Linked DNA regions of Homo sapiens: region 2 is linked to region 1. A link means that fine-mapping ties the variant in region 1 to the expression of a gene that starts in the linked region. Tissue or cell type: whole blood. Region 1 holds a variant in brackets; the other region holds the start of a gene. All regions are shown on one strand. Distances are between the middles of the regions.

Region 1 (5,147 bases):
AGTGAAAAGTCATGCCCTGTTAACGGGGAGAGAATAGAAGGAGGGGAGGGGAGTGGAGGGAAGAGGAAGGGAGCAGAGGGGCTGAGAGGGGAGGGGAGGGGAGAGGAGGAGAGAGGAAGGGAGGGGAGGGGACAGGAGAGGAGTGGAGGAGAAGGGAGGGGAGTAGGAGGAAGGCAGTGCACATTGCATGCAGTAAGGAAAGTATTATGTTATAAAACTTTGTTTCAGCTTTTTGTGGGGTGAGTGTGTGTACTGGGTCCTGAGATAAAATTTCTTTCTTGCATGATCTAAGAAGTATGTGTGCATCACAGGAGTCCAGGCTTTGAGCCTGGGATCAGCACAGTTCCTGACTCTGACCCACACACCATGAGCCAAAGCTCTAGACCTTTCAGAAATTCTTCACCATCAGAAAAATGGAGGTGGCACGCCCTGCCGCAGCTGATCAACTTCCCAGATGTGCTGCGAGCCTGCAGTAAGAGAATGGATGTGAAAGTGCTTTGTAAACTGAAAATTCCAATGAGAAAAATCCATTATCATTAGGTACAGTTAACCAGAAACCTAAGAGGTAAACTTAGATCTGGATTTTGGGGGGTTTGTTTGTTTGTTTGCTTTTTGAGATGGAGTCTCACTCTCTCGCCCAGGCTGGAGTCCAGTGGCACGATCCTCAGTTCACTGCAACCTCTGCCTCCTGGGTTCAAGCAATTCTCCTGCCTCAGCCTCCTGAGTAGCTGGGATTACAGGCATATGCCACCACGCCCAGCTAATTTTTGTATTTTTAGTAGAGACAGGGTTTCACCATGTTGGTCAGGCTGGTCTCGAACTCCTGACCTCATGATCTGCCTGCCTTGGCCTCCGAAAGTGCTGGGATTACAGGCGTGAGCCACCACACCTGGCCTAGATCTGGATTTTGAAGAAGAAGAAGAAGATAATGATGACGATGATGACAGCTAATGCTTAGATGGTGCTTGCTATTCACTAGGCACTGTCCTATGATGGGTGGAATACAGGCTGTGGGGAAGGAGGGGCTGCTCTCTGTGGCAAGAGATGGGAACTGAGCTAGGCAGGTGGCTACAGCCACAAGAAGCCCTGGCTACTGGGCTGCAGCACATGGCAGATCACACCAAACAGAGATGGTACATTTTGGGGTTGGGTGCACAGGGACAGATCATCTGGAGTATGACGTGGTTTCCTTTGGGTGTCCTGAAGTCCCCAGCAAGAATGCTGAAACATGTCTGTCATGTTCCCTTCTACAGGAGAAAGAGATAGAAGTGGCCTGGCTTTGAAACATGGTGCTATCCCCTAGCAAGCAGAGGAGGAGCTTCCAGACAGAAAATGGTACCTTTCCCCAGAGTCTATGTTGAGGTGCACCAGCCTTTCCAGTCCTGAGAAAAGACAGAGTCATGGCTCCAGGGCAGGTGGGCATGCCTGTGTCCCAGGAGGCACTGTTCTTCCTGGCCAGAGACCCATGCCCACTTCAGAGGAGCCATGAAGGAGAAACACCAGGCCACAGTGGAGGACTGTGATCAAGGAAAAATTGAAGAACTGCTGCAGGAAATTGGAGCTGCCAATCTCCTAACAATTGGAATTTTTTTATACTGTGCATTTCACAAATGTATGGTAAGTGCTTGGGAATCACAAAGGTCCTATAAGTATTCAGTATTACAAGTCACATCCTGCTAACACAAGTACCATTGCAATGAAACTTTCTGTATGACAAAAGCAATTTCCACATCCTGGTCGGTGGCCCATTTATTTCAAACAATATTCAATATGCCAACAGTGATAGCTCCCTTCTCTGAGCAGGCAGGCTGATTGTCTGTCCTGTTAATTCTGTAAAGCATGCATGCACCATCTTGTACCATTCACCATTGTTTGATGCTTATTATTCTTGCCTTGAAGTCCTCAAGGACAGAGAAGATCCTGCCCTAAGGAGCAAGTGTGCGGAGGCCACCTGGCCTTCACTGGTTCCTGCACTGAATGTTTCCTTCTCACCTGCTGAGTACCAGGTGTTACCCCAGGTATGAGATGACCACGCCAGGAAGATGTAGACCCCGCTCTCAAGGGCTTACAGGCTGCAGGGCAAGTAGACCAGCAAACTGCCATCAAGATTCAGTGTGAGAGGTGCATTCTACAACAGCACTCAGAGCAGGGATCCAGGGAAGTGGTGCCTAACATAGACAGAAGGAGTCCAGGAGGACTTCCAGGTGGAAGTGACATCTAAAAGATGAATGAGAGTCATCCAGGCAGGTGAGGTAAGGAAAGGGTCAAGGGTCAAGGCAGTGGGACAGTGGTGAGAGCCAGACTAGAATTCCAGGTATTTGGATCAGCACAATGATAACAACAGCTCACTTTTAAAGAACACTTGCCAATGCCAGGCACATAGTAAAGGCTTTATAAGCATTATTTCATTTAAGCCTCAAATCAACCCCACTATCCCTATTCTACAGATGAAAAACTGAGGCTTTGAGAGGATAAATATTTTGTCTATTTAATCAACACAATCTAAATATTAGCCATCATTATTATCATAATTGTTACTATTATTATTAACTTCAGACATCACATCTCAACTAACCTCTTCTGGTGAAACAGGTACGGATTAACCTCCCCTAATGATAAGCTCACACCATTAGTAATGAGCTGCATTAGGATTTGAACTCAGTACTCAGATTCTGGAGATGAAAGAGGTCACCAGGCGGGGGAACGGCACCTACTCAGTCTCCTGGTGTGGTGCAGGGAGGGGTCATAAAGCATCAGTTGGGCAGGGCTGGTCCTGAGTGGCATGAAGGCTGTGGAAAGGCACCCATGAAATGTTCCAGAGGGTGAAGGGC[A/C]TGACAGCCTGTGGCTTTAGAAAACCTCCTCTGGCTTCATTATGAAGAATGGATTCAAGAGGGCAGAGCTGGAAGCAGGGAGATGCATTAGGGGCTATTTTCTCATCCAAGCAATAGATGTTGGCGGGGTGAAGTCAGGCTTGGTGTGGATGCAGAGGAAGTAAAAGATGAAAGAGCATTTTAGGAGGTGAACTGGATGGGGCATCCGCCACACAGGCTGGTGGGGAGGAGAAGGAAGCTGGGACAGGCAGTATGGTGCAGGGAAGGACCCAGTTACAGAGTCTGGCTCCAAAGGTGGGACAGGGCATCTGGAAGCCCCACTGCCATGCCCAGGGCATCTGGAGAGGAAGGAGGAGCTCCATAGGTGGCGAGGCTGCCATGTGGTGGATGTTTGAGGTGGCAAATAATACTTGCAGCTCAGCAGGCAATGGCCTGGTGGCTCTGCAGAAGCAGCCCCAGGGGAGGATGAGGATGAGGGATGTTGGGTGCAGCCAGGGAGGCTGGTTTCAAATAGTAGGCAGTCAGGGGATTAGGTCCAGAAAACAAAGAATAACTTAGATCAATGAGGGCAGGTTGGCATAGGAAATGGTAGAGTTGCAACTGCAGGGTGCTAAGGGTGCCTGGGTCCGGCTGGCTCCAGAAGTCAAGGTTGAACTCCCCTCATTGTGCACCTGAGCAGCTGACATCCTTCCAAAGACCAGGACATCAGGGACCCCATCTAGGATGGGATGAGACAGAAACAATGTTCTTGTCCTGTGTGGTTTTACTTCCCTCCCCGGGGCCCAGCCGAGGGGTGGGTGCGTGGGGGCACCTAGCAAACACTGGTTAAAATCAGAGCCCAGCATCCTGTCCCAATGTGCATGCCTACCCTCAGCTTTTGAAGTCTGAGGTGTCAACAGTGTGTAGTTTAGAAATCCTGGAAGGTTGCAAAGTGCTCAAGGGGATGGTTCTAAAATACGTAGTGATGCTCCCCCGCCAATATGTTGTGTGTTGTGGCAGGAGAAATATTTCCAGAGATGGCGACATCAGAACGCTACAGGAAAGCTCTAGAGAATTTAGTGCCTCTGCGTCTCTTCTCCTTCTCATTAGGAGACAGCAGTGGTGTTTTAAATTCTTTAAAGTGGCACTTCAGTCAAGGAGGAGTTTATAAAAATAATTTCTGCAGCATGGTGGATGGAGGGTGACAGGCAGCAGCCGGGTGAGGGGTTGAGAGGGCTGGGAAGAGAAGTCAAGCAGGCCACTGGGTAAACAGGGGGGACCCCTGAACCCCAGAGTCAAACAGAAAAGACTCTACCATATGCAGCCCTGGACAGTCAAGAAGCATGGAGCAGGGAGGGTCTGTGTGCTGATGGCTGATGGGCCCCCACTGGTGGCCTCTCAAGCCCCATTAGGGCTGGCACCAGGTATGGTCACTTCCAGTCCACACAGAGCTTTTGTAGGCACAAGGACAAGTGACCCCTTTAGGTAGATGCAGCTCTGCCCCAGGGTGCATGGCTTGGTGGGCAGAACACAGCCAAAGTTCAGCCCCCTAGTTCCCCCAAGGCCAGGTGCTTTGATGCAGAAAAATATTGTGCAACTGTTCATGGCAGTCCATGGGGAGAGACTGGGGTGCATCCTCGTGAAACACTGGAAAACAGAGCCAGAAAGCAAAACTGGAAATCATGGGAATCCAAGAGGAATTAAGACATTTTAAATAAAAAAAAATCTATTTTAAGATCCAGAAGGAGAGAAGACTCCTGATTAGCTAAGGCAACAAGCAGTGGTATGGGGAGAGAGTAGAAGCCACTGCAATCCCTTCCCCATCTAGGTAGTTAGGCCACGATTGGCAAAGTGCTTTGCCATGCATGATCCCTCAAAATTCGCACTGATAAAAATTCAGTGAAGAGACTTCCATAGAGCAGGGAGCCACAACTCAGAGGCCTCACTACTTGCCCAAGATCTCTCAGCTAGGGAGGTGGGGAAATGGGACTCGAAGTCAGGTCAGCTGACTTCAAATCCAACCCTTTTTCCTAGGTAGCCTCAGTGTGATGGATTATCTGCAGAGATCATCACCAGTAATCCTCCAGCCCTGTACATATCCACTCTTTTCCATCAGGAGGTGAAATTTATTTCCCCTCCCCTTGAATCTAGGCCAGTCTTGTGACTTGCTTTGACACTGACTTTTCTTACACTGTGCATTTCACAAATGTATGGTAAGTGCTTGGGAATCACAAAGGTCCTATAAGTGCTCAGTATTACAAGTCAAATCCTGCTAACACAAGTACCATTGCTATGAAACTTTCTGTATGACAAAAGCAATTTCCATGTCCTAGTCGA
Region 2 (5,147 bases), 390 kb after region 1:
ACATCATCTGAAGACAGCTGGAGGCCCTGTCTTGAGGACTGTACTACCAATGCCTAAAACAGTCTGGGATGCATAGTAGATACTTAGTAAGCATGTTGAAAGAATGGACAAGAGGATGAGAATGTGGTTTAGAATCATCCCCATTGGAAAACCTCCTCAAAGGTTTTCCCAGTGGATTGGGTCATCAATGTCATTTTTCTAAGTAAAGTACTACGGACCCTGAGGAGTGTGTTCTACCCAGACTGGCTTGACTTTCTGAAGGCATCCTATAGTTACAGCCTTTAGAACAGTTGAGCTATCGGCAGCTTTAAAGAGGCTTTCAGTTTTTTTTTTTTTTAAATCATTAATGCTTTGTAGGTGACTATAGAGATTTTCATCATTTAAAAAAATTAGTTCTGGAATGAATAACCACTGGCTTAATTCAATCTTTTGCTTACCATCTTCTGAAGCTTTCCCACAGCAAAATGCCTTCTTTGCTCACAGCTAGAACCGTGGGTCTGTTTAAGTTTGGAAAGATCTTGAAAGCAGCTTGCCAAGAGGTTTTGTATGCAAGGAAGAGAAGGTGAATTAGGAAACTTTCCCAGTTTGTTTTATTCCTGAAGCTTAAGTATTGAGGCTTCCCTCAAGTATTAAGGGAAGAGAGGAACTCCAAAATGCATGATTTGATGAGTCATTGGGTTCAATTAATTTTATACTTACACTGTAACATTATTAGGATAGGGGAAAATAAGATATTTAGTACTTTTAAGAAAGATTTATTAAGTTTGGGGATAAGGTTTGCATTTTGGTCAGTATATATATGTATATATGTGTGTATATATATGTGTATATATATGTATATATATGTGTATATATGTATATATGTGTGTATATGTGTATATGTGTGTGTGTGTGTATATATATATATATATATATATATATATATATATATATGAATGGGATTCCTTCCGGTTGCATGTAAACACTCAATTTAAGAGTCTTCAGGGTAGAATTGTCATGCTAGAATACACCAGCAGGTGGCAATGTGTCCTGGTCTCATCATTAGGGAAGTGCCTTGGCTAATCTGCTTCTATTCTTTCCAAAAATAAACATTACAAAATTAGTTGGCTGTGCCTTGAACCTAAAAAATCGAGCAATAAAGAGTCGTCTCTGGTCTCTGTTTATCTTTTCCTTTTTTTCCCCCCCGTTCTAACTAACGTCAGCGTGAGCTCATGCCTCTATTCGGGGATAATGATCCTTTCATGAACTGTTGCGGAATGACTTTTTGCAACAGCATTGTTAAGAGGTAATTGTTTCCTCTCTCCACATCCACTGTTTATTAGATTTGATTTGCTACTTGGATTCCACAAAATGGCTGAAATCCCTTGTCACCAACATAGGTTTAAGCTCAAAAGTCTGAAAATAGTTGGATAAAGGGAATAGCCACTTTGGATGTTTGCAGGCAGAACTGAAGAACTGTATTACATGTGGTACCTAAATTGCCAAAATACTGAATTATTCAATCATAAAACTAGATGGGTATCTAAAGCTCTCTACCCAGTAGGGGAAAAAACCGAAAAACCGTTTGGGAATCCTTCAGAGAGAACCGTAATGCTATTTACTGGATAAATATACTTCATTTTCTTCTCCCAGTTCTTTCCACAACACGCTTGTTAAGTCGCCATGGAAAGCACCATGCTTTATCAATTTGGCAAATAACACATTTCATTTTGCCAAGGCAGAAACAGCCTAAAAGTAATATTTATACCGAGAAACCCTGGCTGCAGTCCCCAGCTGCTCTCCCGCAGCCCTGCGCCTCCGGCTCATGCAGCGCTCTCCCCCCGGAGCCGGCAGGTGCCCAGGTGAGCGGGGCCTGCGGAGGCAGCGAGGGGCGCCGGCCGGGAACCGGCAGAACGCGTGCAGCCAGAAGACAGGAGAGATAATACATTCCCTTAAGTAATAAAAGTTTCCAGGACAAGGGGGGCTGGTAATTTTCAAAGAGCCTCCCGGCACGATGTCCTCGGGATCTGGGGGGCGCTCTCGGGCGGTCTCTGGTGAAAGTCGACTTAGTACAAACTGGACTCGAAGGGGCATGTCTCGGCACTCAGGGGCCCAGGCGCCGCGGGAGGTGGGTGGGCCTCCCGGGGCTGCACGGGTCCCACCTCCCTCTGCCCCGTAGGACTACTTTGCCGCTCTCCCAAACCGGGCTCCGGCGGAGGCGTCCGTTCAAGGGCGAGAGCGCGGCCCTGAGCGGCGGAGGGATCCCGGGTGAGGCGGCTTCCCGAAGTCAGAGGGGAGGGGGCCATAAAGTCGGCGGGGGACGGGAAGCGCGAGCTCGCGCCGGACGCGGCCAGGGCCGGGAAACCAGAACCGGAACCGGAACCCGCGCGCGCGCCCGCGGTTGCGCGGCCCCCACGGCCGCCGGCCTCCTCCGCTGTCTGCGCGCGCGCCCGCGAGGGCCTCCAGAACCCGGCGAGCCGGCCCTGCGCCGGGAGACGCCGCCGCCTCCGCCTCCCGGACCAGGGCTTCCAGGCCGGGCCGGACGGGCATCTCCCGCCCCTCGCGGGGAGCGTCGGGGAGGAGCCGCCGCCTCTGGCGATTGCGGAAGAGTCCGGGCCTCAAAGGGATGGGGAGCAGTCCGCGGCGCTGAGAGACCCGGGTCCCTGTCACCTCGGGCCGCGGGACCTCTCCGCCGGCGCCAGCGGCTCGTCCCAGCACCGGGAGCCTGGTGAGGGCGGCGAGCACAGAAGGAGCCCCGGGCCCGGGACATGGAATCGCGCGAGCCCGGCGCGGGACGGCCGGAGACGCGGCCAACGCTGCGGCCACGAGCAGCCGGCAGCCCCAGATAGAGAGCCGGGAGGGAGGGCCCCGGCCCTTGCCGCGGCGGGGAGTTCGAGGCCCCGAGACTCCGGAGGAGGAGCCGACACCCGTCCGTGAGCTGATCCCGCCCCAGCCCCGGCGGGAGTCCCGGGTCCCCTTCCCACTGCGCGCGGATTTCCCTCTCTGAGGAAGTTTATCCTTGTGCCTTCTGGAGGATTTCTCTCTAGCTCGACTCACTCTGGACTGACTCGCTCCCTGGCTTTCTCAGTTCGTTTTGGGAGATAACTTGTTTTGCTCCAAGCCGCATCCGTTGACCCCTTACAGTCGGATGGTCTAGATGACTGAATGGAGTTTTGAGTTGGACTTTTGTGTCCCTGACGGAGTTGGGCCTGATCCCAGAGCACTGGGGGTGGGGAGGAGGTGTTACTGTAAAATGCAAGTTGGATAAAAGGAGGACCTCTCGCCAAGGGCCCCAATGAGTGGCACACAGTCTACTATCACCGACAGGTTGGTATGAATTCCTCCTTCGTTCGGCCTCCCGGAATCGGGCCCGACCTAGCAGGGGAGTCGGTGATTGCAGATTGCCTTTGGCCAGCGAAGTTGACAGGCAGAGGAAAGAGGGTTGTTTCGGAGCTGTGCAGTTAGCCTGGGGTTGCTGCCGAGTTATCCAGTTGATTGGCTTTTGGAAATGTAATTTTTCCGGAGAGAAACTTCCCTTCCGATTCTCAGAGAAGGGGGAGGCAAAACCATGATTGTGGTTTTCCGCCTGTAGTGTGCATTAGGATTGTGTACTCGTCTGGAAATCAGAGGAGAAGGTCATTTTAGGTGAAGGTCGGTGCCTGAAGTCGGCTCGGTATTGGTGTATTATTTATCAGCTTTAGCCGTGTCCTGCAGTAGATTCTCAAGACAATTACATTTTAGGAATTTCTACCTGTGAACTTAATGTTGAGCCTACTGCATGGTGATCTGGGAACTTGATCTCTTTCAGATGTTGACCTGCACGGTGTTTAATTATTATCTAATAACTTTCCAGAATGTTGACATTACCAGTAAATCACAGGTTCTTGCTGGAAGCAATGTCCAGGAGCTGAAGAAATGAGGGTAAATCATGGGGTTTGCTTTTAATTCTTGTATTTAAATATTTCGTCTTCCAGAAACACTTGGCGTTTAAGAGATATAAGCCGTAAGCATAGTGTAAGCGCGCAGCTGAATTTGTTGAGTTCTGTGTCTGTCCTTTATAGCACCTACCAGTGTTGCATGGTGGTGGGTGGCGAATTGAGCTAGACCATGTGTGGTTGAAGTGCAGTTTGCTTATCCTAAGTTACTCTTGTTTATAGGGTAAGGGATAAAAAGCATATTGATTCCTTGACCACATTTCATTCTCAATTTAATTATGACACTGCATGCTAGTCCCAAATTTGTCAGCTTGCTTTATTTTTAAGTCAGTCTTCGAATTATTACACCGTGAAAAAATAGATCAAGTAACTGAATTAGAGGGCCAAAGCTCTTTGATGAAAAGTGCAACAATAGTGCTTCTGCACAAAGTAGTCTTAATTTCCTAATAAGAGTTTTACCCAATTGTAAGACTCATTTGTTGATTTTAAAAGGGCCAAATTCCATTATCATACCATAACAGCTACTCCAGAAACAGAACTTCCTCTTCCTGTTGATGCTTTCCAGCATCACATGAATGTTCACTTAAAAGAGTCTGTTAAATATTTAAAGTATTTATATTTACTCTTTGTGTATTTTTCAAAGTGGGTTTTCATTTTCAATGAAATAATTTTTAACTTTTCCAAGAATACACTTAAGATAAGTATTGACAATGCTTATCTTACTTTCTTCTGGTTATCCCCATTTTTTTCCTTTCAGGGTGTTTTGCTTCTGAGAAATCACTTTTACGGGTGTGGGGATAATTGTTTTCCTGCTTCATTCAATTCTCGCTCTTTCTGTTGAGCCTGTAAACAAAAGTCTTGCTAGGAACTAATGTAATGTTGGTTTTCATTGCGATGCTGAGGTGTTTAATTTATGGAAACAGAACGGACTCATTCCACACACAAGTGAGTGAAAAGCCCTCAAGTAATGGTTTTTCTTCAGCATTGCTTCTCAGGGATTTTCCTTGTCTTCTCGTTATCTTGGAAATAGAATCTTGGAATTTGTATCCTCTTTATAACGTAGATGGCATATAAACATTCAATAAATATGAAATTACTGAAAGCCTGTTTCTTTTCTTTTTCTTTTTTTTTTTTTTTTTTGGCCAGGCACTGTGCAGGCACAAGAGATTACAAAATGAATATTGTAAGATTAATCTGCAAATTGGTTTGGGCATTAATGTTTTTTGAACTGGT

The links. PIP is the estimated chance that this variant, and not a neighbour inherited with it, causes the effect.
Region 2: it holds the start of ARHGEF12, and the variant in region 1 is fine-mapped to the expression of ARHGEF12 in whole blood (TOPMed, PIP above 0.99).

The regions. Positions count from the first base shown.
Region 1 is chr11:119,944,516-119,949,662 of GRCh38, forward strand. It overlaps LOC105369526 (a long non-coding RNA gene), which reads left to right. Exons shown (of 8, transcript XR_948083.3): 4 at 293-540; 5 at 1,254-1,617; 6 at 1,900-2,018; 7 at 4,845-5,023. Among named protein-coding and RNA genes, the nearest start is that of LINC02744, 48 kb to the right of the region's middle. The variant A/C (reference allele first, on the strand shown) is at 2,832.
Region 2 is chr11:120,333,970-120,339,116 of GRCh38, forward strand. It overlaps ARHGEF12 (Rho guanine nucleotide exchange factor 12), which reads left to right and starts at 2,444. Exons shown (of 41, transcript NM_015313.3): 1 at 2,444-3,306. The coding sequence starts at 3,275. RefSeq lists a silencer at 2,031-2,900.